Linked DNA regions of Homo sapiens: all the other regions are linked to region 3. The links come from fine-mapping of genetic effects on gene expression. A gene starts in region 3. Each other region holds a variant in brackets. All regions are shown on one strand. Distances are from middle to middle. Region 1 overlaps BCL7A (BAF chromatin remodeling complex subunit BCL7A). Region 2 has its middle 9.2 kb from the start of PSMD9. Region 3 holds the start of HPD (4-hydroxyphenylpyruvate dioxygenase).

Region 1 (8,176 bases), 180 kb after region 3:
ATACAATCATAGTTGGGTTATGTTTCATTTTCAGAAATAGATATGTGAGCTGGGATGTGGCCTGTCTCAGTGGCATTCCTTAGCATCCCCTTTCCCTCTGGGGACTGGGGAGACCCCACGCCCGACTCAGGACTGAGGTTGGATTACAGACGCAGAATTACACCAGAGGGCCTTTTCGAGCTGAGGCCAGGACCCCACCTGGGTTCACATCCTAACTCTCCCTGCACCTTCCCCTGGCTGTGTGATCTTGGGCTATTTGTTTAACCTCTAGCTTTGGGGTTTGTTTAGTTTTAATCTGTAGAATGGGGATGGTAATGCCTACTTCATAAACTCACTGTGAGGATTAAATTAAATAATCTCTTAAAAACCTTGGCATGGGACCAAGCACAGTGGCTCACACCTGTAATCCCAGCACTTTGGGAGGCCGAGTTAGGAGGATCACTTGAGCCCAGGAGTTTGAGACCAGCCTGGGCAACACAGGGAGACCTCATCTCTACAAAAAAAACAATAGGTGGTTCGTATCTATAGTCCCAGCATTCTGGGAGGCCAAGGCGGGCAGATCATGAGGTTGGGAGATCGAGACCATCCTGGCTAACACGGTGAAACCCCATCTCTACTAAAAATACAAAAAAATTAGCCAGGCGTGGTGGCTGGTGCCTGTAGTCCCAGCTACTCGGGAGGCTGAGGCAAGAGAATGGCGTGAACCTGGGAGGTGGAGCTTTCAGTGAGCCAAGATCACGCCACTGCACTACAGCCTGGGCGACAGAGCAAGACTCAGTCTAAAAAAAAATAGATTAAAAAAAAAAATAATAATAATAATAAATTTAAATTAGCAGGTTGTGGTGATGCGCACCTATAGTCACAGCTACTCTGGAGGCTGAGGATCATTTGAACCTGGGAGTTGGAGGCTGCAGTGAACAGTAATTGCACCACTGCATTCCACTCTGGGCAACAGAGCAAGACCCCATCTCTTAAATATATATATATATATAATATATATATTATATATATTATATAATATAATATATAATATAATTATAGTAAATATTTTATTTTGGGCCAGGTGTGGTGGCTCATGCCTGTCATCCCAGCACTTTAGGAGGCCGAGATGGGAGGATCATTTGAAGTCAGGAGTTGGAGACCAGCCTGGTCTCTATGGTAAAATCCCATCTCTACTAAAAATACAAAAATTATTGGGTGTGGTGGCACACGCCTGTAATCCCAGCTACTTGGGAGGCTGAGGCAGGAGAATCACTTGAACCTGGAGGCAAAGGTTGCAGTGAGCTGAGATCATGCCACTGCATTCCAGCCTGGGCGACAGAGCAAGACTCCATAAAAAAAAAAAATTATTTTACTGTATTCAAAAATAGAGACAGGGTCTTGCTATGTTGCCCAGGCTGTTTCCAAACTCCTGAGTTCAAGCAATCCTCCTCCCTCAACCTCCCAAAGTGCTGGGAGTATAGGCATGATCCACTGTGCCCAGCCTATAATAAAAATTTTAAAAACCTTGGCATGTTAACAGCTCACATTTATGAAACCGTCACAATGTGCCAAGTATTGTGCTAAGCCCGTTACATCATTGCCTCATTTGAGTCTAATAACCAACCGCATTTTACAGATGGAGAAACTAAGGCCCAGTGAGGTGAAGTAACATGCATGGTTAGCAAGTTCATAACTTCCAGTGCCATTGATGGCATTTGAGGTTGGTTCTTTGAAGACAGAATCCAGGTTTGTGGCTGGCCGTGGTGGCTCACACCCATAATCCTAGGACTTTGGGAGGCCAAGTTGTGAGGATCGTTTAAGGTCAGGAGTTGGAGAGCAGCCTGGCCAAACAATGGTGAAACCCCATCTCTACTAAAAATACAAAAATTAGCCGGGCATGGTGGTGGGCACCTGTAATCCCAGCTACTCGGGAGGCTGAGGCAGGAAAATCCCTTGAATCGGGAAGGGGAGGTTGCAGTGAGCCAAGATTGCACCACTGCACTCCAGCCTGGGCAAGAGAGTGAGGCCGTGTCTCCAAAAAAAAAAAAAAAAAACCAAAAGATCCAGATTTGTGACCTGGATAAACTCTCCAGAAAAATCTAGGATGCTGAACAAACCAGGTCCCCAGACACAGGTGCCCTGTTGACTTTCTGATTTTCATTTTAGTGCACGTGCAGCCGAAAGCCAGTCAGACTGCAGAGTGTGTAAATGGGAAGGTCAGGGAAAGGTGTGGGCCGGGCAAGTTTTCTGGAAGGCTTCAAGTGGGAGGATGGGTACAGCAGGGGATGAAGGAGAGGGCGGTGCCCCGGGCCCTTTAGTCCACAAGACTCAGCTGAAGTTAGCCCAAGTATCAGGGTCACGCTGTTACCAGGCTACCAGGCTAGACCAGACGTTAAACATTAGTGCTCATTGTCATTCATTAACAGAGCCTCAGGAACCTACGGGGCCAGCCTCTTGCGCGTGTGCTTGCCATAGGAAGGAAGTCTAGTTTTTCTCAAGGGAGAAATCGGGGAGCACACATCCTTCTTTTTTTTTTTTAAGTCCCAGAATTCACAAGAGGATGCTTTTGTGTAACGAGCACCCCAGAGTACAGTTAAAATCAGATCCAGGTTACCCGTGTGGGGCCGCCTGACTGCCTGGTGCTTCCTCGGCAGGTTGAGGTAGAGGAGGGGCGTGGGGCTGGGAGTTGGGCAGATGGGTCCGGCAAGTGGCTCTGCTGCTCCCAGCCTCAGTTTCCCCCTCCGGAAAGTGAAGGTGGTAACGGTGCCTTTCCAACGGGTTGTGGGGAGGATTCCACGAGGTGTCCATAAATGCTTCTGCCCAGTGCCTGGCATGGTGGCAGGTGCCCAGGTCTGTTGGGGTGTCTCTGTCTCTTTCTCATGTTTACAAAAGTGGCCATCGCCCCGGGTGCAGCATGGCCCCCAGAAAGGCTGCTTTGGTTTTGAAACCTCCACTTGGGTCTCTGCTGTTTAAAACGACTCTCCTAGGTTGGGCACAGTGGCTCAGGCCTATGATCTCAGTGCTTTGGGAGGCCAAGACAGGAGGATCACTTGAGCCCAGGGGTCCAAGACAGCCTGGGCAACATAGTGAGACCCCATCTCTACAAAAAACTTAAAAATTAGCCAGATGCAGTGGCACATGCCTGTGGCCCCAGCTACTCAGGAGGCAGAGGCAGGAGGATGGCTTGAGCCTAGGAGTTCGAGGCTGCAGTGAGCTATGATTGTGCTGCTGTACTCCAGCCTGGGCAACAGAGCAAGACCCTGTCTCTAAAAATAAAAAATACATAAATGGCTGGGTGTGGTGGCTTACTCCTGTAATCCCAGCACTTTGGGAGGTTGAAGCGGGCAGATCACCTGAGGTCAGGAGTTCAAGAGCAAGCCTGACCAACATGGCGAAACCCCGTCTCTACTAAAAAATAATAAAAACAAAAGTTAACTGGGCATGTTGGTGCATGCCTGTAATCCCAGCTACCTGGGAGGCTGAGGCATGAGAATCGCTTGAACCAGGAGGTGGAGATTATAGTGAGCCGAGATCGCGCCACCGCACTCCAGCCTGGGTGACAGACTCCATCTCAAAAAAATAAATAGAGTGACTCTGTGCCTGAGAAGGGGGTGCAGGACAAGGGGAGGTGCAGCCC[G/A]GGCCCCAGCTCTGCCCCCAGCCCAACTGTAAATGCCATTGCCCAATTACCCCTTCTCTTTCTTCTTTGTATTGTGAAGGGTTTTGTTGTCAAGAACAGTAGAGAGAGGAATACGATCCCCCTGTACACTCCACCTTGATTTTCATGAACACGGTGCCACATTTGTCTCATCTATTTTTTCAATGTGTTAGATTTTTGTAATTAAAATATAATTCACATATAAAAAATACACAGCTAGTGGCCGGGTGTGATGGCTCACACCTGTAATCCCAGCACTTTGGTAGGCTGAGGTGGGCAGATCACCTGAGGCCAAGAGTTCGAGACCAGGCTGGCCAACATGGAGAAACCCGTCTCTACTAAAAAATACAAAACTCAGCCAGGTATGGTGGCAGGCGCCTGTAATCTACTTGGGAGGCTGAGGCAGGAGTATTGCTTGAACCCAGGAGGTGGAGGTTGCAGCGAGCCCAGATCGCGCCATTGCACTCCAATTTGGGCGACAGAGCAAGACTCCATCTCAAAAAAAAAAAAAAAAAGTGTAAAAGTTCAGGGAGTCCTGACAGTGGCCGGCAGCCTGCACTGAAGTATTTTCTGGTAAATTTCCCTGCCTCATGACATTCAAGTCTGCACCTAAACGTCATAGCATGCATTGCTGAAAATATGACGTTTCTACATACCCACTGTCCCATGATCACTTCTAACTAAATTAACAACAGTTCCTTAATAGCTTTTAAAACCCAGACCATATTCAAATTCCCCAATTGTTCCAAAGTGTTACAGCTGGCACGTTTGAAACAGGATCCAAATCATTTCCATACATCATATTTAGTCGAGTCTCCTAGCTTTCTTTATTCTAAAGTCATCTCCCCTCCCCCAACTTTTTTTTTTTTTTAAATATGATACTGACTTTAAGGGAGTGGACCACGTGTCCCGTGGAATATGCCACCTCCCGCTGTCTCTCTCTCCCTTTTATTTCCTATCAAGTGGAACTCAGCTCCAGGCTGGATGCAGTCAGACAGAACGCCTTGGCAATCCCGCCTCACGGACCATGCCGTGTCTTCTGTATCGCTTCCCTGCCAGACACACAAGACGTCTGGTTTCTACACCCAGAATGAGGCCTCAAATGTCCCCCCAGGATTTTAAATATGTTAGGCCACCATCCCCAGCTGGCTGCCTCCAGACGCAGGGTACAGTTGGCTCAGTGTGGGGAAGGTCAGGCCAGTGCCGGAATTCTTTGCCTCTCTGGACACATGGGATGGCTGTGGTGCTTGGGTGGGTGGGTGGGTGGGGGTCAGGGGGCGGGAGTGAGCTCAGGGGTCCCAGGAGGAGGCGTATCCAGTATCCAGACCCCTACCACACGGCCGGGTGCAGTGGCTCAACGCCTGTAATCCCACCACTTTGGGAGGCCGAGGCAGGAGGATTACCTGAGGTCAGGAGTTCGAGACGGGTCTGGCCAACATGGTGAAACCCCATCTCTACTAAAAATACAAAATTAGCCAGGCGTGGTGGCAAGTACCTGTAATCCCAGCTACTCGGGAGGTGGAGGCAGTGAGCCAAGATTGCACCACGGTCCTCCAGCCTGGTTGACAGAGCGAGATCCGTCTCAAAAAAAAAAAAAACGGTAACCAGACCCCTCCCCGGGAGAGCTGCCATGGGGTTCCGGGCATTGAGGCACAGGGATGCTGAGCCCTCTGACCTACCCGTCCTTGGCAGCTGTGGGATTTCATCCTGTGGTTCTGTTCCCACCCCCTACAGACGATAACAGCAACCAGAGCTCCATCGCAGATGCCTCCCCCATCAAACAGGAGAACAGCAGCAACTCCAGCCCCGCTCCAGAGCCCAACTCGGCTGTGCCCAGCGACGGCACCGAGGCCAAGGTGGATGAGGCCCAGGCTGATGGGAAGGAGCACCCAGGAGCTGAAGGTATGTGGCCTCTGGAGGTGGGGCTCTGACGGCCTCCCTGTAACCGGCCTTCAGGCAGTCTGTGGCTAGGTGTTCCAGGAGGCCCTGTCATGTGCCAGCCCCAGCAAGGAGACAGTAAAGAGAGGTGACACCTGGAGTACATGGTCTCGTGGGGGAATTAAAAAAATCAGACAGGCCAGGTGCAGTGGCTCATGCCTGTAATCCCTGCACTTTAGGAGGCCAAGGTGTGAGGACTGCTTGAGCCTAGGAGTTCAAGACCAGCCTGGGCAACATAGCAAGACCTCATCTCTACCAAAAAAAAAAAAATAGCCAAGTGTGGTGGCACACACCTGTGATCCAGCTACTCAGGAGGCCGAGGTCGGAGGATCACTTGAGCACAGGAGGTCAAGACTACTACAGTGAGCCATGATCATGCCTCCGCACTCCAGCCTGGGTGACAATAAGACCCTGTCTCAATAATAAGTAAATAAATAAAAATCAAACAATTGGCCAGGCATGGTGGCTCACACCTATAATCCTAATGCTTTGGAAGGCTGAAGCAGGAGGATCACTTGAGGCCAAGAGTTTGAGACCAGCCTGGATAGCATAGCAAGACCCTGTCTCTACAAAAAAATGCTTTAAGATGAGCTGGGCATGGTGGCATGTGCCTGTGGTCCCAGCTACTCAAGAGGCTGAGGCGGGAGTATCCCTTGAGCTCAGGAGTTGGAGGCTGCAGTGAGCCGTGATCACACAACTGAACTCCAGCCTGGGTGACAGAGTGAGACCCTGGCTCAAAATATAATTATATTAATAAATTTTAAATGTATTTAAAAATCAGACAACCTAGTATTAGGAAGATAAGTGTGGCAGAGAATTATAAAGTAGGAAAGGGGTGGGGGGTCTTGCTGAATGACCTGGAGAGTTGCAGTTTTAAATGGGGTGGTCGGGGCGGCCTTTGAATAAGACAAGGCTCAAACTGGGCGACTGAGCAAGCCATGTGGGGATCTGGGAGGAGAGCAGTGTGGGCAGAGGTAAGAGTGAGTGAGGAGCTGGAAAATAAGATGGGCACCAGGCGCGGTGGCTCACGCCTGTAATCCCAGCACTTTGGGAGGCCGAGGCAGGCGGATCACTTGAGGTCAGGAGTTCAAGACCAGCCTGGCCAACACGGTGAAACCCTGTCTCTACTAAAAATACAAAAATTAGCAGAGTGTGGTGGCATGTGCCTGTAATTCCAGCTAGTCAGGAGGCTGAGGCAAGAGAATCACTTGAACCCAGGAGGCGGAGGTTGCAGTGAGCCGAAATTGTGCCATTGCACTCCAGTCTGGGCGATAGAGCAAGACTCTGTCTCAGAAAAATTTTAAAAAGTTAATAATAATACGGGGTCAGACAGCAGGCAGCGCCTCAGGTGTGGGGGGCTCGTAAGGCCACTGCCTGGCCTGGGTTTTCATGGTAAGACGGGAGCCACTGGGGGCTTGGGTGACATGATCTGAAGGATTAAGAACAGATGATGGGGTGATTGTGTGAGAGTGTGTGTGTGATTGTGTGAATGTGTACACAAATATTTGTGTGTGTTTATTTTGAGTCTCTACAGAAAAATTAAAAGAATGGCATAATACTGTCCTATATATCCACCTGCTGAACTTGGCAATTGTTGGCTTTTGGGTTTCTTTTGCTTTGTATTTTTTCTGGGACCATTTGAAAGTAAGTTATAGATCTCAGGACATTTCATCCCTAAACATGTCAGCACGTGTCTTTTAAAAATAAAGACATTCTGGGCTGGGCACAGTAGCTTATGCTTATAATCTCAGCACTTTGGGAGGCTGAGGCAGGAGGATCTTTTGAGCCCAGGAGTTCAAGACCACCCTAGGCAAGAAGACGAAACCCCGTCTCTACAAAAAATATAAAAATGAGCCCGGCATGGTGGCATGCGCCTGTAGTCCCAGGAGGATCGACTGAACCTGAGAGGTCGAGGCTGCAGTGAGCCATGATTGCACCACTCCAGCCTGGGTAACAGGGTGAGACCTTGCTAAAAAAAAAAAAAAAAAAAAAAAGGCATTCTCTTACAGATTTACAAATACCGTTACTGCATCTAAGAAAATGAGCAGCATTCCGGATGGTCTAACATGGAGGTATATTTTGAAGGTGAGGGGAGAGCCTGTGTTGGGCAGTACATAGGGGTGAGTGCGGACCTGAGGGCAACTCTGGGCACCTGGAGGGACAGCAGTGGCTGAGCGGGTCTGGGGAGGGCAGGCCAGGTCTGGAGCGCCTTGCACACCCATGAGGAGCTGGCGAGCATGGAATGTGGAATGGCAAATGTGACCAGCCTGCAGCTAGGGCCACCCCAGGGCTCAGGGCGTGTGTGTCCTGGGAGCAGCCAGTGTGGTTCTAGGAGAAAGGCTGTCCCCTGCTGCAGAGCTGATCCGCACCCCTGTGCAAGGAGGCTCTGGGCTGGCGCCAGGGCCCCAGTCATAGCTGCACTCTGCTTCCTGCACCCCAAGAACCCATAGGTCAGCAGGGGAGACAGACACTGGAACGAAGGACTCATTGGCAGAGATGCAGACAGACTCTATCCAGCCCGTGGTGTGAGAATCTGGCTATACAGAACCCTGCAGTATCATTTTTTAAATTTGAATGTGATGTCAAAATTTAAAAATTGAG
Region 2 (8,176 bases), 21 kb after region 3:
AGTGCAGTGGCTCAATCTCGGCTCACTGCAACCTCCATCTGCCAGGCTGAAGCAATCCTCCTACCTCAGCCTCCCAAGTAGCTGGAATTATAGGTATGTGCCACCAAGCCCGGCTAATTTTTGAATTTCTTATATAGACAGGGTTTCACCATGTTGCCCAGGCTGGTGGCAAACTCTTGGGCTCAAGTACACTGCCCACTTCGGCGTCCCAAAGTGTTGGGATTACAGGCATGAGCCACTGCACCTGGCCGGTATGGTCAATTTCGAGTATCAACATGAAGTCATTGAACTTGGGGTTAAGCTAAGTACAGTACATACCAAACGGATACAAACAGAAGTAAATAACCCCAAAAGCACAGATGAGGCTGGGTACATTGGCTCACATCTATATTCCCACCATTTTGGGAGGCTGAGTCTGGAGGATCATTTCAGTCCTGGAGTTCAAGACCAGCCTGGGCAACAAAGCAAAATCCCATCTCAAAAAGAACAGAGTAGAGAAGAGAAGAGACAGCATTGGTGATACTAAAACTTAGTAAAAATGATTAGGAAGTTGAGGCCAGGCGTGGTGGCTCACGCCTGTAATCCAGCACCTGGGAAGGCCGAGGTGGGAGGATCACCTGAGGTCAGGAGTTTCAGACAGGCTTGGTCAAAATGGCGAAACCCCATCTCTACTAAATATACAAAAATTAGCTGGGCGTGGTGGCGGGCGCCTGTAGTCCCAGCTACCTGAGAGGCTGAGGCAGGAGAATCGCTGGAACCCAGGAAGTGGAAGCTGCAGTGAGCCAAGATTGTGCCACTGCACTTGAGGCTGGGCCACAGCGAGACTGTGTCTAAAAAATAATAATAATAAAAACTGGCCCACAAACTTCCTGGAGAATTGACCGTGGGCTCTCCTGAGTGAATAGGAGCTACTTCCCTGCTTTCGTTGCCTGAGGTTTAGAGGTGGGAGGCCCCCATGATAGGGAAAACAGCCACCAGGGAGGCCGAACAGCTGATACGGGATCAAGGCCCGGGGTACATCAAAGGGCTTTTCCTTCCTCTCAGGCTAAATTACCATCACGTCAGTAGCTCCATCACTTGCATAAGCGGAGGGTAAGGTTACTCAAGCCCAGCCATCGATCCCTTTCAGGCTGAACCTGTGTCCTCATCATCCAAAGTCCCCATGCTTGCATACGTCTCCCACCCTTCAGTTTGGAGCACTGACTTTCATCGTTGGCAAGGGCAATGGGGAGTTCTCTTTGGCCTCTGATTTGCTGAATTGCCTTCAATACATGGCTTAACCTCTCTGAACCCCCATCCCCATTTCCGAGTCTTAGGAAGAACTGTGGCAGGGCGCGGTGGCTCATGCCTGTAATCCCAGATCTTTGGGAGGCTGAAGTGGGCTGAAGTGGGAGGATCACTTGAGGTCAGGAGTTCGAGACCAGCCTGGCCAACATGGTGAAACCCCGTCTGTACTAAAAATACAAAAATTAGCCGGGCATGGTGGTGCACGCCTGTAAGCCCAGCTACAAGGGAGGCTGAGGCAGGAGAATTGCTTGAACCCAGGAGGCGGAGGTTGCAGTGAGCCAAGATTGCGTCACTGTACTCTAGCCTGGGTGACACAGCAAGACTCCATCTCCAAAAAAAAAAAAAAAAAAGAACTGTTATGAGTCTCTGTTACCTACAGGGATAGAAGTGAGTGACTACATGTCCAGTGCTTTGCATGCAACACAACCACCCTGTGAGGGAGGTATTATTCTACCCATTGTACAGTTGAAGAAACTGAGACTCAGAGAAGCTAACTGGCTCATACTAGTAGGTAGAGTTGGGATTCATCTCTCCTTACCCCAAATCCTAGTTTTTCATCCTTTCTGGTGTGCCTTACTGCCTCTAGAGCCCCTCCAGATTTTTACAAATGAGAGGGGTGTGAGAGGCTGCTGGCCACAGACCTGAAACCTAAATGTGCCAGGAGAGCAACAGAGAAGAGCTGGGTGAGGTTGGGCGCGGTGGTTCACGCCTGTAGTCCCAGCACTTTGGGAGGCAGAGGCAGGTGGATCACTTGAGGCCAGGAGTTCGAGACCAGCCTGGCCAACATGGTAAGACCCCCATCTCTACTAAAAATACAAAAATGAGCCGAGTGTGGTGGCACATGCCTGTAATCCCAGCTACTCAGGAGGCTGAGGCACCAGAATAGCTTGAACTTGGGAGGTGGAGGTTGCAGTAAGCTGAGATCGTGCCACTGCGCTCCAGCCTGGGTGACGGATTGAGACTCTGTCTCAAAATAATAATAATAATAAACAGAAGAGCTGGGTGGGATTGGGGAAAGCTGCATCCCACCCCCACACTCTGCCAACGAGGGCAGTAACTTAGCTCCAGACAGTTGTTGCCTGTGGGTACATGGGCCTGGTGTGGCCGGATTTTGTTCAAAAGAAGTTAGCAATGTGAATTTTTATGTGAAATCCTTTGATTTGAAGATTGTCTTGTTTTGAATTCTATTTGTATGAAATATCCAGAATAGGTAAATCCACAGACCCACAGTGCAGACTGGTGGCTGCCGGGCTCTGCGGGGAGGGAGGAAGGGAAAGTGACTGCTTAAGGAGAATGGGTGTCCTTTTGGGGTGATGGAAAGAAGTATTCTGGAACCAGATAGAGGTGGTGGTTGCACAACATTGTGAATTACTAAATGCTGCTGAATGTTTTCACTGTTTTGTGACTCTCATCTCAATAAATTGAATTGGTTTTAAATTTTTCTTTATGATTTTGTGCGTTTTTAGATATTGGGAAATAGCATTTTTATTGAAGATGAGTATACATGGAGAAGTGCATAAGTGTATAGCTCTGAATTGTCACAAACAGAACACACCTGTTTAACCAGCTCAGCTATGTGGTTTTTTGTTTGTTTTGTTTTTTTATTGAGATAGTCTCACTCTGTCGCCCAGGCTGGGGTATAGTGGTATGATCTTGGCTCACTGCAACCTCTACCTCCTGGGTTCAAGCAATTCTCCTGCCTCAGCCTCCCAAGTAGCTGGGATTACAGGCGTACGCCACCACGCCCGGCTAATTTTTGTATTTTTAGTAGAGATGAGGTTTTGCCATGTTGGCCAGGCTGGTCTCAAACTCCTGACCTCAAGTGATCCACCCACCTCAGCCTCCCAAAGTGTTGGGATTACAGGCATGAACCACTGTGCCCAGGTTACAGATATGTGTTTTGGTTTTTCGTTCTTTTTTTTTTTTTTTGAGACAGGTTCTCACTCTGTTGCCCAGGTTGGAGTGTAGTGACACCATCATAACTCACTGCAGCCTCAAAATCCTGGGCTCAAGTGATCCTCCCACCTCAGCCTCCCCAGCAGCTGGGACTACAGGCATGTGCTACCACACCAGGCTATTTTTTTTTCCTTTGGCAAAGATGGGGGTCTCACTATGTTGTCTCGGCTGGTCTCAAACTCCTGGGCTCAAACCATCCTCCCGCCTTGGCCTCCCAAAGTGTGGAGATTACAGATGTGAGCCACCATGACTGACTTATTTTGTTCTTTAATACATAACTTATAGGCCGGGTGAGGTGGCTTCTGACTGTAATCCCAGCACTTTGGGAGGCTGAGGCGGGTGTATCGCCTGAGGTCAGGAGTTTGAGACCAGCCTGGCCACCTTGGCGAAGCTCTGTCGCTACTAAAAATACAAAAATTAGCCAGGCGTGGTGGTGGGCACCTGTAATCCCAGCTACTCAGGAGGCTGAGGCCAGAGAATTGCTTGAACCCAGGAGGCGGAGGTTGCAATGAGCCGAGATTGCACTCCAGTCTGGGCAACAAGAGGGAAAATCTGTCTAAATAAATAAATAAATAATTAATTAAAAAATAACTAATACAACTTGGTTGGGGCGGGGTGGGGGGATGAAAATACACATAATTAAGAGGAAAAAAAAGTAAAGAAAACAAGCCTACTGATAATCCTTCATCTACAGACAACCACCTTGGATGATCTGGGAATGCCCACCCAGACTACTCTTTTCTTTTCTTTCCTTTTCTCTTCTGTTCTCTTCTCTTCTCTTCTCTTTTTTCTTTTCTTTTCTTTTCTCTTATTTGATGGGGTCTTTCTCTGTTGCCCAAGCTGGAGTGCAGTGGTGTGATCAGCTCAGTGCAGCCTTAAACTCCTGGGCTCAAGGGATCCTCCCATCTCGGCCTGAGTAGCTGGGACTACAGGCAAGCACCACCATGCCTGGCCCACACAGACTACTTTCTAAAAATGTATAAACATATATAGATATGACAAGATATACAGATAATGATACATATGATTTGATA[C/A]TTATGCTAATTTTTTTACATATACTTTGTAAACACTTTTGTCATGGCAATAAATACACATGTTCACCTGGTGTGTGTATATGTGTGTGTTTCATTGAAAAGCTATACTGGGTGGGGCCAGGTGCAGTGGCTCATGCCTGTAATCCCAGCACTTTGGGAGGCAGAGGTGGGTGGATCACTTGAGCCCAGGAATTCGAGACCAGCTTGGACAATGGCCAGAACAGATCTCTACAAAAATTTAAAAATTAGCTGGGTGTGGTGGTGTATGTATATGGTCCCAGCTATTGGGGAGGCTGAGGTGGGGGGATTGCTTGAGCCTGGGAGGTTGAGGCTGCAGTGAGCCATGATTGCACCACTACACTCAAGCCTGAGTGACAGAGCGAGACCCTGTATCAAAATGAAAAAAAGAAAAAAAAAAAAAAAGAAAGGCTGTACCATGATTTCTTTTTTCTTTCTTTCTTTTTTTTTCAGATGGTGTCTTGCTCTGTCGCCCAGACTCGGGTACAGTGGCATGATCTCGGCTCATTGCAACCTCTGCCTCCCAGGTTTAAGAGATTCTCCTGCCTCCGCTTCCCTGGGATTACATGCGCCCACCATCACACCCAGATAATTTTTGAATTTTTAATAGAGATGGGGTTTCACCATCTTGGCCACGCTGGTCTTGAACTCCTGACCTCGTGATCCACCCGCCTTGGCCTCCCAAAGTGCTGGGATTATAGGCGTGAGCCACCATGCCCGGCCTGTACCATGATTTCTTTAACCAGCTCCTAGAATCAAGCATTACCAAGATCTTCCCATTAGAAACAGCATGGATGGTGATCTAGCTCATTTGAATGTAGAGTTTAATGCTCTTTAACAATTGCTTTATTAAATTACTCTGAATTTATATTAATAAGTATCTTATTACTATTTTATGTTTTGTAGAGACAGAGTCTTGTCATGTTGCCCAGGCTAGTCTCAAACTTCTGGCCTCAAGTGATTCTCCTGCATTGGCCTTCCAACATGCTAGGATTACAGACATGAGCCACCATGCCAGGCAGTATCTTATTATTGTTATTATTTTCAAGGGTCTCAATCTGTCACCCAGGCTGGTGTGCAGTGGCGTGACCTCAGCTCACTGCAACCACTGCCTCCCAGGCTCAAGCAATCCCCCCACATCAGCCTCCCAAGTAGCTGGGACTACAAGTGTGTCCCACCACGCCAGGCTAATTTTTTGTATTTTTAGTAGTAGGATTTCGCCATGTTGGCCAGGCTGGTCTCGAACTCCTGACCTCAGGTGATCTGCCCACCTTGGCCTCCCAGTGTTGGGATTACAGGCGTGAGCCAACGTGCACAACCCAGTATCTTATTTTTAAAAATTACTTTCTGCTCTGCTCCACGCTCTGCCCAGGTACTAAATATTAACACCCTCACAGGTATAACTGCTTCCCTTTTTCCATTCTATGGGGGAGTTGACTTTACTGAATAAAAATAGGATGATTTACTATGTGGGTCTCTGCATCTTACTTTTCCAAATGCTTAATTATTGGCAACTGTGGTGGATATTCCTTTAGCCCCTCCAAATCTCTTCCCTCCCTGCCCTTCTCTGTGCCCCAAGCCTTATCACCTTCAGCCAACCTGAGACCCTGGCAGGAAAGGAGAGGAGAGACAAGTGGGGGTATCTCTTCCTTGGCTTCCTCCCTGCCAGACGTTGTTTTAGCAGCTGTTTTAGCAGCAGCTATGTCCCTGTACTGAAGGCCACACTCCTGTTGGGTGACTACAACTCTCTCTAGGTTTCCAAACCCTCCCTTCTCTTGCCCCTTTAGGCTTAAGGGGTGGGGTAAGAGACCCCATGCTCACCAGCCCCAGGTGGCTTCATTATCCTTATCTGCTCCCATGACTTTGTTTTTTTGTTTGTTTGTTTGTTTTGTTTTGAGATGGAGTCTTGCTCTGTCGCCAGTCTGGAGTGCAGTGGTGCGATCTTGGCTCGTTGCAAACTCCGCCTCCCGGGTTCAAGCGATTCTCCTGCCTCAGCCTCCCAACTAGCTGGGACTATAGGCATGTGCCACCATGCTCAGCTAATTTTTTGTATTTTTAATAGAGACAGGGTTTCACCATGTTGGCCAGGATGGTCTTGATCTCCTGACCTCATGATCCGCCCACCTCAGCCTCCCAAACTATTGGGATTACAGGCGTGAGCCACCGCGCCCAACCTAATTTTCGTATTTTCATTAGAGATGGGGTTTCACCATGTTCGCCAGGCTGGTCTTGAACTCCTGACCTCAGGTGATCCTCCCGCCTAGGCCTCTCAAAGTGCTGGGATTACAGGCATGAGCCACTGTGCTGGCCTGATTAAGCAACTAATTTACAATTCTTAAAAACTTTTAGGGGGCCAACTCATGAGCGAGCCTGCCACCTTTATGGCTGTCAGAGTCCAGACCCTTGTTTTATAGATTCAGGAAACGAGGGGAGGATTTGTCGTTTGTAGGATTCCTGGGCCAGAGTGAGGTGAAACATGGAAAGTGTGGTGGTCCTCAAGTCAGGCAGTATGAATTCTGACCAACCAGGTCTCGCCAGGGATCTCTAGTTCCCTGGCTCTATTTCCCATGTGTTTGTCTCTTGGCCTACCTCTCGTTCTGAAATGAAGATGAGCAAGATGTGAAAGCTTGAGAGAGGCAACTGAAGTTCTCCTAGATCTTGGCAGCTTTCTAAAACAAAGGTTTTGCTGGGCTGTCTGTGGCCACTGCAGGGAAGATGAAACAGAACAACTGGAAAGGGGAAAGACAGCTCTCTCAGACTGTTCCCTTGCAATCCTCAAACAGTCCAACATTTGAAGATAAACAAGCCTCAGTCCACATTCTCTAAGAATCTCCAGTGCATGGGACAGACAGGTAAACATGCATTTACAATACCAAGTGAAAAGTGCAGAAAACAGCCCAGCTGTGGGGTGGGACACATAATGATTTCCAGGGAGGTAGTATTTCTTTTTCTTTTTGTTTTTGAGAGGGATCTTTTTCTTTTTGTTTTTGAGAGGGAGTCTTGCTCTGTTGCCCAGGCTGGAGTACAGTGGTGTAATCTCAGCTCACTGCAACCTCTGCCTCCCAGCTTCTCCTGCCTCAGCCTCCTGAGTAGCTGGGATTACAGGCACCTGCCACCAAACCCAACTAATCTATTTTAGTAGAGATGGGGTTTCACCATGTTGGCCAGGCTGGTCTTGAACTACCGACCTCAAGTGAGCCACCCGCCTCGGCCTCCCAAAGTGCTGGGATTACAGGTGTGAGCCACCTCACCCAGCCTTGAGCTGGATCTTGAAGGAGAGGTTCAAGTCAGCCTGGCCTGAGATGGTGTTCCAGGGTGGGAAGAGCAGGTGCTAAGACCCAGTGCTAAGAGAGACTGAGCAAAAAACGTGCCAGAAACTGTTAGAAGTTCAGCATGGCTGGAGCATAAGTTGTGTGTGTGTGTGTGTGTGTGTGTGTGTGTGTGTGTGTGTGTGTGTGTGTGTGTGGTGGGGTACAGGGATGGGAGGTGGTCTAAAGGCAAGCAGAGATCAGGAGTCTTAAAGGCCAAGAGAAGGGCACTGAAGCCATTAAGCAGTAGCGTGCCAATGTCACTCTTGGGAAGGTTGTTCTGGCTGCTTTGGAGACTGGGTTAAAGTGCGCAACCTGAGACAGTTCAAAGACTGCCCAATCAGGAGGAAGAGGTGGCGGGGTAGGAGTAGAGGTGGAGGAGATGGGTGGATTTGGGAGCTATGAAGGCAGTCACAGGATAGAGGTTTATTATAATGACAGCAATATTGACAAGCTCATAATGTAGTAACCTAACAACAGCTCTCTTTTCAGACCGCATGGGTAAGAATCTTCTCCTCACCCTTTTTATTTGGAAAAATTTCAAACCTCAGAAGAACTGCAAGATAGTTCCCC
Region 3 (8,149 bases):
GTCAGCTGCGGGGCTCCTGGCATCTCAGTGGTGCCGACAGCAGGAGGGGTGGGGGCACCAAAGGGAACTCACCGTCTGCAGCACAGCAAACTTCACCTTCCCAAACTTGTCTTGCTCTACCCAGGGCTCCCGCATGATTTTGGCGCCCCGTTCCCGTGCTTTCTGCAGAGAAGATGGGATCGGGGAATTGGTGAGGGCTGGAGCCTTCCAGAACCCTTGCCTGCTGCTCCTGCCTGGTGGCCTCTGCGTGGTCCTGCAGGCCCCTCCAGTTTCTCCAGCCCCAGGTAGGAACCCCAGCCAGCTTCAGCCATTACCCCCAATACTCATGCTCATTTGGCAAATAGGGAAACTGAGGCCCAGGCCCAGAGTTGGGGCTATGGGAGACAAACTAGGTAGGGATGGGTGTCTGTCCTGCCTCTGCTAACTCCCCCTGTGATCAGTCCCCTTCTCTAGTCCTCAATTTCACCATCTGTAAAAAGAATGGTTGGATGAGAATAATAAGAAGATTCATGCATTTATTTAGCAAAACTGGACTGCATGACAGTGCTTATATCATGCACCAGGCTCTGTTCTAGATTCTAACCTCGTTCATCCTCACAGCAACATTATGCAAAAGTACTATTATCATCTCCATTCTCTAGGTGAGGACGTTGAAGCACAGAGACATTAAGTCACTTGCCCGAAGTCACACGGCTAAGATTCAGACCTGGAGAGCCTGGCTCTGGAACGCACACTCTGAATCTGTAGGCTGCCTGTTGGGTACAGTGTTTGGTTTAGAGTTGTGCTCAAGAAACAGTAATTCTGAGGCCAGGCAAAATGGCTCATGCCTGTAATCCCAGCACTTTAGGAGGCCGAGGTGGGTGGATCACTTGAGGTCAGGAGTTCAAGACCAGCCTGGCCAATATGGCAAAACTCCATCTCTACTAAAATACAAAAATTAGCTGGGCATGGTGGCAGGCGCCTGTAATCCCAGCTACTCGGGAGGCTGAGGCAGGAGAATCGCTTGAACCCAGGAGGTGGAGGTTGCAGTGAGCCAAGATTGCGCCACTGCTCTCCAGCCTGGGCAACAGAGCAAGACTCTGACACACACACACACACAAAAGAAAGAAAAAGAAAATGAAAAAAGAAAAAAAAGGAAATGACCAGCCTGACCAACAAGGAGAAACCCCATCTCTACTAAAAATACAAAACTAGCCGGGCGTGGTGGCGCATGCCTGTAATCCTAGCTACTTAGGAGGCTGAGGCAGGAGAATTGCTTGAATCCAGGAGGCAGAAGTTGCGGTGAGCCGAGATCGTGCCATTGCACTCCAACCTGGGCAACAAGAGCAAAACTCCGTCTCACAAAAAAAAAAAAAAAAAAAAAAGGAAATGGTAATTCTAATTTCCTCCTTTGACAACCCAGCTGTGGTTAGCCCCATCTGGCAGCTGTGGAAACTGAGGCTCAGTGAGAGAGAGGACACGGGGGAAGGCAGGGCACCCCCGGAGCCCAGGTGTGTGTCACACCAGCATCTGGGCTTGTCACTGTGATGCAGCATCTGGGCTTGTCACTGTGATGCAGCATCTGAGCTTGTCACTGTGATGTGGCATCTGGGCTTGTCACTGTGATGCAGCAGTGTCCTTCCAGCCCTGACTGATGGGGTCCCCATGGCAGACGGAGGCCTTCCTCTCTCAGTCCACCCAGGTGCTTTCTTACCTGCACGATGTAGTCACAATCTTCCACCTCGAACGCAATGTCCTTCACTCCGTCACCGTGTTTCACCAGGTGATCGCCCATCTCTGTGGCCGGCAGGGAGAGGATGGCACTGGAGTCTGGAGTCTAGGTCCCCTCACCTGGCTTTTAGTCTCCATCCAGGCCCTGAACCCAGAGCCCACCCACGGAGCCATGCGTCCACCCTCCCAGAACCCAGATCCCACCCACAGAGCCATGCGTCCACCCTCCCCGGGCACCTCACCTTTGTTCCAGGGGTTGAGCGCTGAGGAGAGGACAAACACAATCTAAGATAGGAGGAGAAGGAGGTGAGGCTAGTGGCTCAGGGGGGCATGGGGAGGTGCACCCATCGGCCCCTCCCTGCCGACCCGAAACACCCCTGATGGAGCACAAGAACTCCTGGACCTGGGTTCTAGCTCCTTCTCTGCCTTAGTTTCCCACACTGGTCCTGAGGGATGGGGCTTTCAGCCAGACCCCCTCTGGATCCTCAGAGGAACTGCTAGGTCAGGTCTCCCTCGGGGAGAGAACTCCAGGGACCCCATCGGTCAGGGCACTGCTTAAAATTCCTCTCCTCTGATATCCCAGGTTTTCTGAGCACCTGTGGGGTCAGTGTTGGGCCAGGCTGAGGAGGAAACGAAACTAGGAAGGGCCGTGTTGCATGGCTGTACAAAGATGCCAGCGGAGGGGTCGGTGGGAGCTGAATTATATGTTTTTGTTGTTGTTGTTGGGGTTTTTTGTTGTTTTTTGTTTTTTTTTGTTGAGATGGAGTCTTGCTCTGTCGCCCAGGCTGGAGTGCAGTGGCACGACGTTGGCTCACTGCAACCTCTGCCTCCCGGGTTCAAGCGATGTGCCTGCCTCAGCCTCCTGAGTAGCTGGGATTACAGGTGCCCACCATCATGCCCAGCTAATTTTTCTATTTTTAATAGAGATGGGGTTTCACCATGTTGGCCAGGCAGGGGTTGGGGGCTGTCCTGGGGGTGGTGACTCACCTTCCCTTGTTTGATTACATGGCTGACCACCTCCCGGGAACCGGTCTCCAGGCCCCTGTAGGCTAGAGGTTCAAAGCCCATCTTGCTGCAGTAGAATGACGTGGCCTGAATCACAGGGTTGCAGCAGGGTTCATGAGGGTCAAGGGGCCAGCATGGGGGACTTCCGCAAGAGAGCCCCTGGCCCCCCTCAGCCTGCCTGCCCTATTGCCTCAGGGGCAGAGACCCTCCTGGGAAGATAGACTGCTGCCTGCACATTTTGCTGACAGATAACTTTCCCGCTGGTGTAATTAGGATTCAGAGTATCTGGCCCACCCCTGGCCTGATCCTCCCTCCCAAGGGCCAATCACAGACCCTGCTGGAGGCCTGCCCTTGTCAGGCAGCCCTCTGCCCTGCCGTCTGCTCACTCCAGCACCTTGCCCCGGCTTCTACCTGCTTGGCGTTGCCAACCCAGAAGGTCACAGAGTGGAAGTGGAGGAATCGGCCTCTCTCAGGCTGCAGAAGGAGAGAAGAGGTGAGGTTGAGTCCCTGAAAGTGAGTCTAGAAAAGTGCGGGTGGAGTGATGTCCCCTAGCCACCCTCCTTATTCCAGCCTCAACCACAGAACTTAGGAGCAGCGGAACCCCATGCAGCCTTGCCAAGCCTCAAAAGAGGTTTCTCATGTGGAAGTTGAGCTCCTGGGTGTCTTGGATGGGGAAACCCCCTCAGGAGGCCTGCCAAGGTTTCACACAGGGAAATAGACTTATGTTGCAGCAATATGGATTTAAGTTAGACCTTAGAAAGAACTTCCAGATGGGATTAAAAGATTGGCAGGCATTTGAGAAGGGGTACAGGTTTTGTTTTGGTTTTTGTTTCTGAGATGGAGTTTTGCTCTATTGCCCAGGCTGGAGTGGAGTGCAGTGGTGCAATCTTGGCTCACTGCAACTTCCGCCTCCCAGGTTCAAGCGATCCTAGGGTTCAAGTGATCTCCCCCACCTTAGCCTCCTGAGTAGCTGGGATTACAGGGGTGCGCTACCATGCCCGGCTAATTTTCGTATTTTTAGTAGAGACGGGGTTTCCTCATGTTGACCAGGCTGGTCTCGAACTCCTGACCTCAAGTATTTGCCTGCCTTGGCCTCCCAAAGCACTGGGATTACAGGCATGAGCCACCATGCCCGGCCAGGATACAAGTTTGTTGTGAGGGTGAGGTTGAGTCCAGCTCAGTCTCGGGGAGCCCCGGGGGTAAAGCTGAGTGTGCAGGCATGCACGTCATGTATCCACTCCAGTCCTTCCTCTTCTGCTCTCTGCTGAAACCCCAGTCTCCCTGCACTCCGACCCCCTTCTAGACTCAGGCCCCTACATTTCCCACATTTCGCCTGCTTACCTTTGCCCCTTTGTCACTGTAAGTCGTCTAAGGAGAAAAAGAAGGACAGTGAGACTTGGAGGTTCCAACACAAGGTGCTTCTGGAAGCGTTACTGAAGATGTCCCACCCAAGGGGAGATGGCCATGGCACTTACCATGATTGATCTTAGTCAAACCTCCTACTGGGACTAGAGGCCTGGGGAGTGCTGGGCCGGAGTATTTAACCCCAAGCAGGTCCCGCCCAGGCCTCCTGGCCTACCTGGGGGATGGGGTGGGGAGCTGAGCCCAGCCCTGGAAGGTTCCAGGCCTGGGGACCTCTGATCCAGCCGCAGCCTCATTGAACAGGATGGTGTTGCCAGGCCCAGAGAGGGGCAGTGACGTCCACTAGTCAGTGGGAGGCAGAGTCAGGGCCAGAAGCCAAGGGCAAGCTTTTCCAGGACGCTGGGAATGTGACCATTACTGCCCAGAATCCAAAGCTCAGAAGCCAAGGCCGGCTGGAGTGCAGTGGCGGCTCCAGAACTCTTGCCTAGAGGAAATTTGAGGGGGCATTTGGAGACTGGCCCCAAAGTCCTGTTTGCGTCACAGCGTTGTATTCCATAGCTCTGAGAGGCACGGCAGGAGAAGGTTTGCATCCTGGCTCTGTTACATACAGTGTGACTTGGGAAAATCACCATATCCCTTTGAGCCTCATTTGTAAAACAGGAATGAGAATAGTGTGGTGGGGATTAAAGGAGATAAGCACGCTCTTTGGAACAGGACCTGGCACACAGGACACTCTCAGTGTTGGTTATAATTCATTGGGACAGAGAACATTCCTAGGCCATGAGGTCAGCAAGCGGCAGGGAAGAACTGGAACATGAACCGGGCTATTCTAACTCCAGGACCCACACTTTAAATTGCTAGATTGCCCTCTATACAAATGGGAGATATTGATATCCCCATCAGATGGGGAAACTGAGGCCTGGAGAGGTGAACACATGTCTCCCAGGTCATGGAACTGGTAAGAGCAGAGCCCCAAACTCTGGCCTGTTTGATTCTGAAGTTGGATCTCATTGCACCAGTGCAGACCACTTCTCCCTCCTTTTCTCTATTTTCTGGGCCATTCAGGAGGCAGGCAAGGTGGTCCCACCCCCTTATTCTGCCTGTCCTGGGCCTGCCCAGTGTGCTCCCAGTGTCCACCTCAGCTCCTTAAGTCTAAATTTCCAACTGGGGGCCGGGGGTGGTGGCTCACGCCTGTAATCCCAGCACTTTGGGAGGCCAAGGAGGGAGGATCACTTGAGGCCAGGAGTTTGAGACCAGCCTGGCAACATGGTAAAACCTCATCTCTACTAAAAATACAAACATTAGCTGGGCACGGTGGTGCACGTCTGTAGTCCCAGCTACTCAGGGGACTGAGGCAGGAGGATCACTTGAACCAAGGAGGCAGAGATTGCAGTGAGCAGTGATCATGCCACTGCCCTCCAGCCTGGGTGACAGAGTGAGACTCCATCTCAAATAAATAAATAAATATCCAACTGGGAAAACTTGAGTGGAGGTGGCCCAGGGTGGATCTCACAGGCCCAGAAGGTTCCCATGGAGGAGAAGAGCTCTGTGTAGCCTGCCTATCCCCTCCAGGCCAGCAGGAACATCTTGTCACTTTGATTGCTGTGGCCAACTCAAACCCCCACTCCTGGAGCCTGCCCTGGCTTATATGCTAAGCACAAAGGCCAATGTTTACTAACTCAAGGAAGTGTGTCAACAGCAGTGGGTTGCAAAGGCTGGCAGGCATCTAGAGGTAGGAACTCTGTCCCCAACACTGTAGGTCTCAGTCCCATGCTGGGTGCACCCCTAGATGCCATTCACATGTCTGGGCAGAGAGCAGGGAGGCAAGCCTGCAGGGCCCAGTATCCAGAGTCCCCTCCCTGATGCTCTCTGTTCAGGCTGGGCTCCACTGGATAACAGATCAGCAGTGGCTGGGTGTGACTGTCTCTGTTCTTCATGCCCGACCATGCAGAGGTGGGTTCCAGAGGCCTTGCTCAAGAAGCTCACTGATCAGATGGGTTCATAGGACGCATCCTTGAAAATACCCTGGTGTGCAGAAAAGCATTCACCTAGCTGGGCCTGGTAGTGAGCACCTGTAGTCCCCAGCCACTCAGGAGGCTGAGGTGGGAGGATCACTTGAGTCCAGGAGTTAAAGGTTGCAGTGAGCTATGATCACGCCACTGCACTCTAGCCTGGGGAACAGGGTGAGAACTTGTATCAAAAATAGATAAGGCAGGGCCCAGTGGCTCACACCTGTAATCCTAGCACTTTGGGAGGCCGAGGAGGGAGGATCACTTGAGGTTAGGTGTTCGAGACCAGCCTGGCCAACATGGTGAAACCCTATCTCTACTAAAAATACAAAAATTAGCCTGGATGCAGTGGCTCATGCCTATAATCCTAGCACTTTAGGAGGCTGAGGCGGGTGGGTCACCTGAGGTCAGGAGTTTGAGACCAGCCTGACCAATATGGTGAAACACCGTCTCTACTAAAAATACAAAAATTAGCTGGGCATGGTGGCAGGCACCTGTAGTCCCATCTACTTGGGAGGCTGAGACAGGAGAATTGCTTGAACCCAGGAGGTGGAGGTTGCAGTGAGCCGAGATCATGCCACTGCACTCCAGCCTGAGCAACAGAGTAAGACTCTGTCTCAAAAAAAAAAAAAAAATTAGCTGGGTGTGGTGGTGTGTGCCTGTAATCCCACCCAGCTACTTGGGAGGCTGAGGCAGGAGAATCACTTGAACCCAGGAGGTGGAGGTTGCAATGCGAGATTGTGCCACTGCGCTCCAGCCTGGGCGACAGAATGAGACCCTGTCTCAAAATAAAGAAATAAGTAAGTAAGTAAGTAAATAAAATGGAACAAGTCTCAGTTACTGATAGTTCTTACTATAGTGTTTGCTAATATTACAGCTTCTGGAAAAAAACATGAAAAAGAGGCAATCTCTAAATGGAGATACACTTTCAGGGTTTTAAAAAGCAGTTTTTAGTTGCTAATGAGCCCTTGTGAAACCACACAGCTGACCCTTAGAGTCATGATTTTCTAGCTGATAGGGATCTTTTTACAGGCGTCCACCCGGGCTCTGAAACTGACAGACTTAAAGGGCTTAAGAAAGCCTCGCTTCGCTCTTAGCCTCGAGACAAACAGTCTCTTGGCTTAGCTACTGCAGAAGAAAATCCTGAATTCACGAATTCTAGTTTTCCAAACCTGATCCCAAGCTGAAAGCTCTGCAAGGGGACGGTTGCTTGAGCCCAAGAGGTCGAGGCTGCAATGAGCTATGATCGCACCACTGCACTCCAGCCTCGGTGACAGAGTGAGACCCTGTCTTAAAAAAAGAGAAAAAAAAATGCTGAAACCTGATGCTGTCTGCTGTGAGCTGTTTCAGTGTCAGCATGAATTCTGCCAAACTAAAAAAATGGGCAAAATTGCTCCACTCAACACACAGGACTTTAACTCTAGGACCCTGGCAGATTAGAGACATCCCTCCCTGGGGCCATATGCTGTGCAAACATCGTGGATGCTGCTGGACAGTGTGGGTCACTTACAGATGTCCATGATGAAAGAGTTCCTCTCTAATGGGACCATTTACATTGGGCTGCTCTTCAGCTCTGCATTTCTTTTTTTTTTTTTTTTGAGACGGAGTCTCGCTCTTGCTGCCCAGGCTGGAGTGCAATGGTGCGATCTCGGCTTATTACAACCTCCGCCTCCCAGGTTCAATCGATTCTCCTGTCTCAGCATCCCAAGTAGCAGGGATTACAGGCATGTGCCACCACGCCCAGCTAATTTTGTATTTTTAGTAGAGATGGGGTTTCACCATGTTGGTCAGGCATGTCTCGAACTCCTGACCTCAGGTGATCTGCCCACCTCGGCCTCCCAAAGTGCTGGGATTACAGGCGTGAGCCACCGCTCTCGGCCTTTTTTTTTTTTTTTTTTTTTTTTTTTTTGAGACAGAGTCTCCCTCTGTGGCCCAGGCTGGAGTGCAGTGGCGTGATCTTGGCATCTCGGCTCAATGCAAGCTTTTTTTTTTTTTTTTTTTTTTTTTAGGCTGGAGTGCAATGGTGCAATCTCGGCTCACTGCAAGCTCCACCTCCAAGGTTC

What was found. PIP is the estimated chance that this variant, and not a neighbour inherited with it, causes the effect.
Region 1: its variant is fine-mapped to the expression of HPD in fibroblasts (GTEx, PIP above 0.99).
Region 2: its variant is fine-mapped to the expression of HPD in whole blood (INTERVAL, PIP above 0.99).

The regions. Positions count from the first base shown.
Region 1 is chr12:122,038,515-122,046,690 of GRCh38, forward strand. BCL7A (BAF chromatin remodeling complex subunit BCL7A) reads left to right here. Exons shown (of 6, transcript NM_001024808.3): 4 at 5,372-5,539. Among named protein-coding and RNA genes, the nearest start is that of LINC02985, 21 kb to the right of the region's middle. The variant G/A (reference allele first, on the strand shown) is at 3,620.
Region 2 is chr12:121,875,476-121,883,651 of GRCh38, forward strand. It overlaps a transcript of HPD not described here. Among named protein-coding and RNA genes, the nearest start is that of PSMD9, 9.2 kb to the right of the region's middle. RefSeq lists a silencer at 988-1,282. The variant C/A (reference allele first, on the strand shown) is at 4,278.
Region 3 is chr12:121,854,631-121,862,779 of GRCh38, forward strand. It overlaps HPD (4-hydroxyphenylpyruvate dioxygenase), which reads right to left and starts at 4,229. Exons shown (of 14, transcript NM_002150.3): 1 at 4,191-4,229; 2 at 4,057-4,083; 3 at 3,127-3,189; 4 at 2,698-2,802; 5 at 1,953-1,995; 6 at 1,694-1,776; 7 at 73-162. The coding sequence starts at 4,193. It overlaps TIALD (transcript inducer of AURKA lysosomal degradation), which reads left to right and starts at 1,623. Exons shown (of 3, transcript XR_002957437.2): 1 at 1,623-2,016; 2 at 2,989-3,208. RefSeq lists enhancers at 1,151-2,350, 5,371-5,888, 5,889-6,405 and silencers at 1,166-1,345, 7,393-7,687.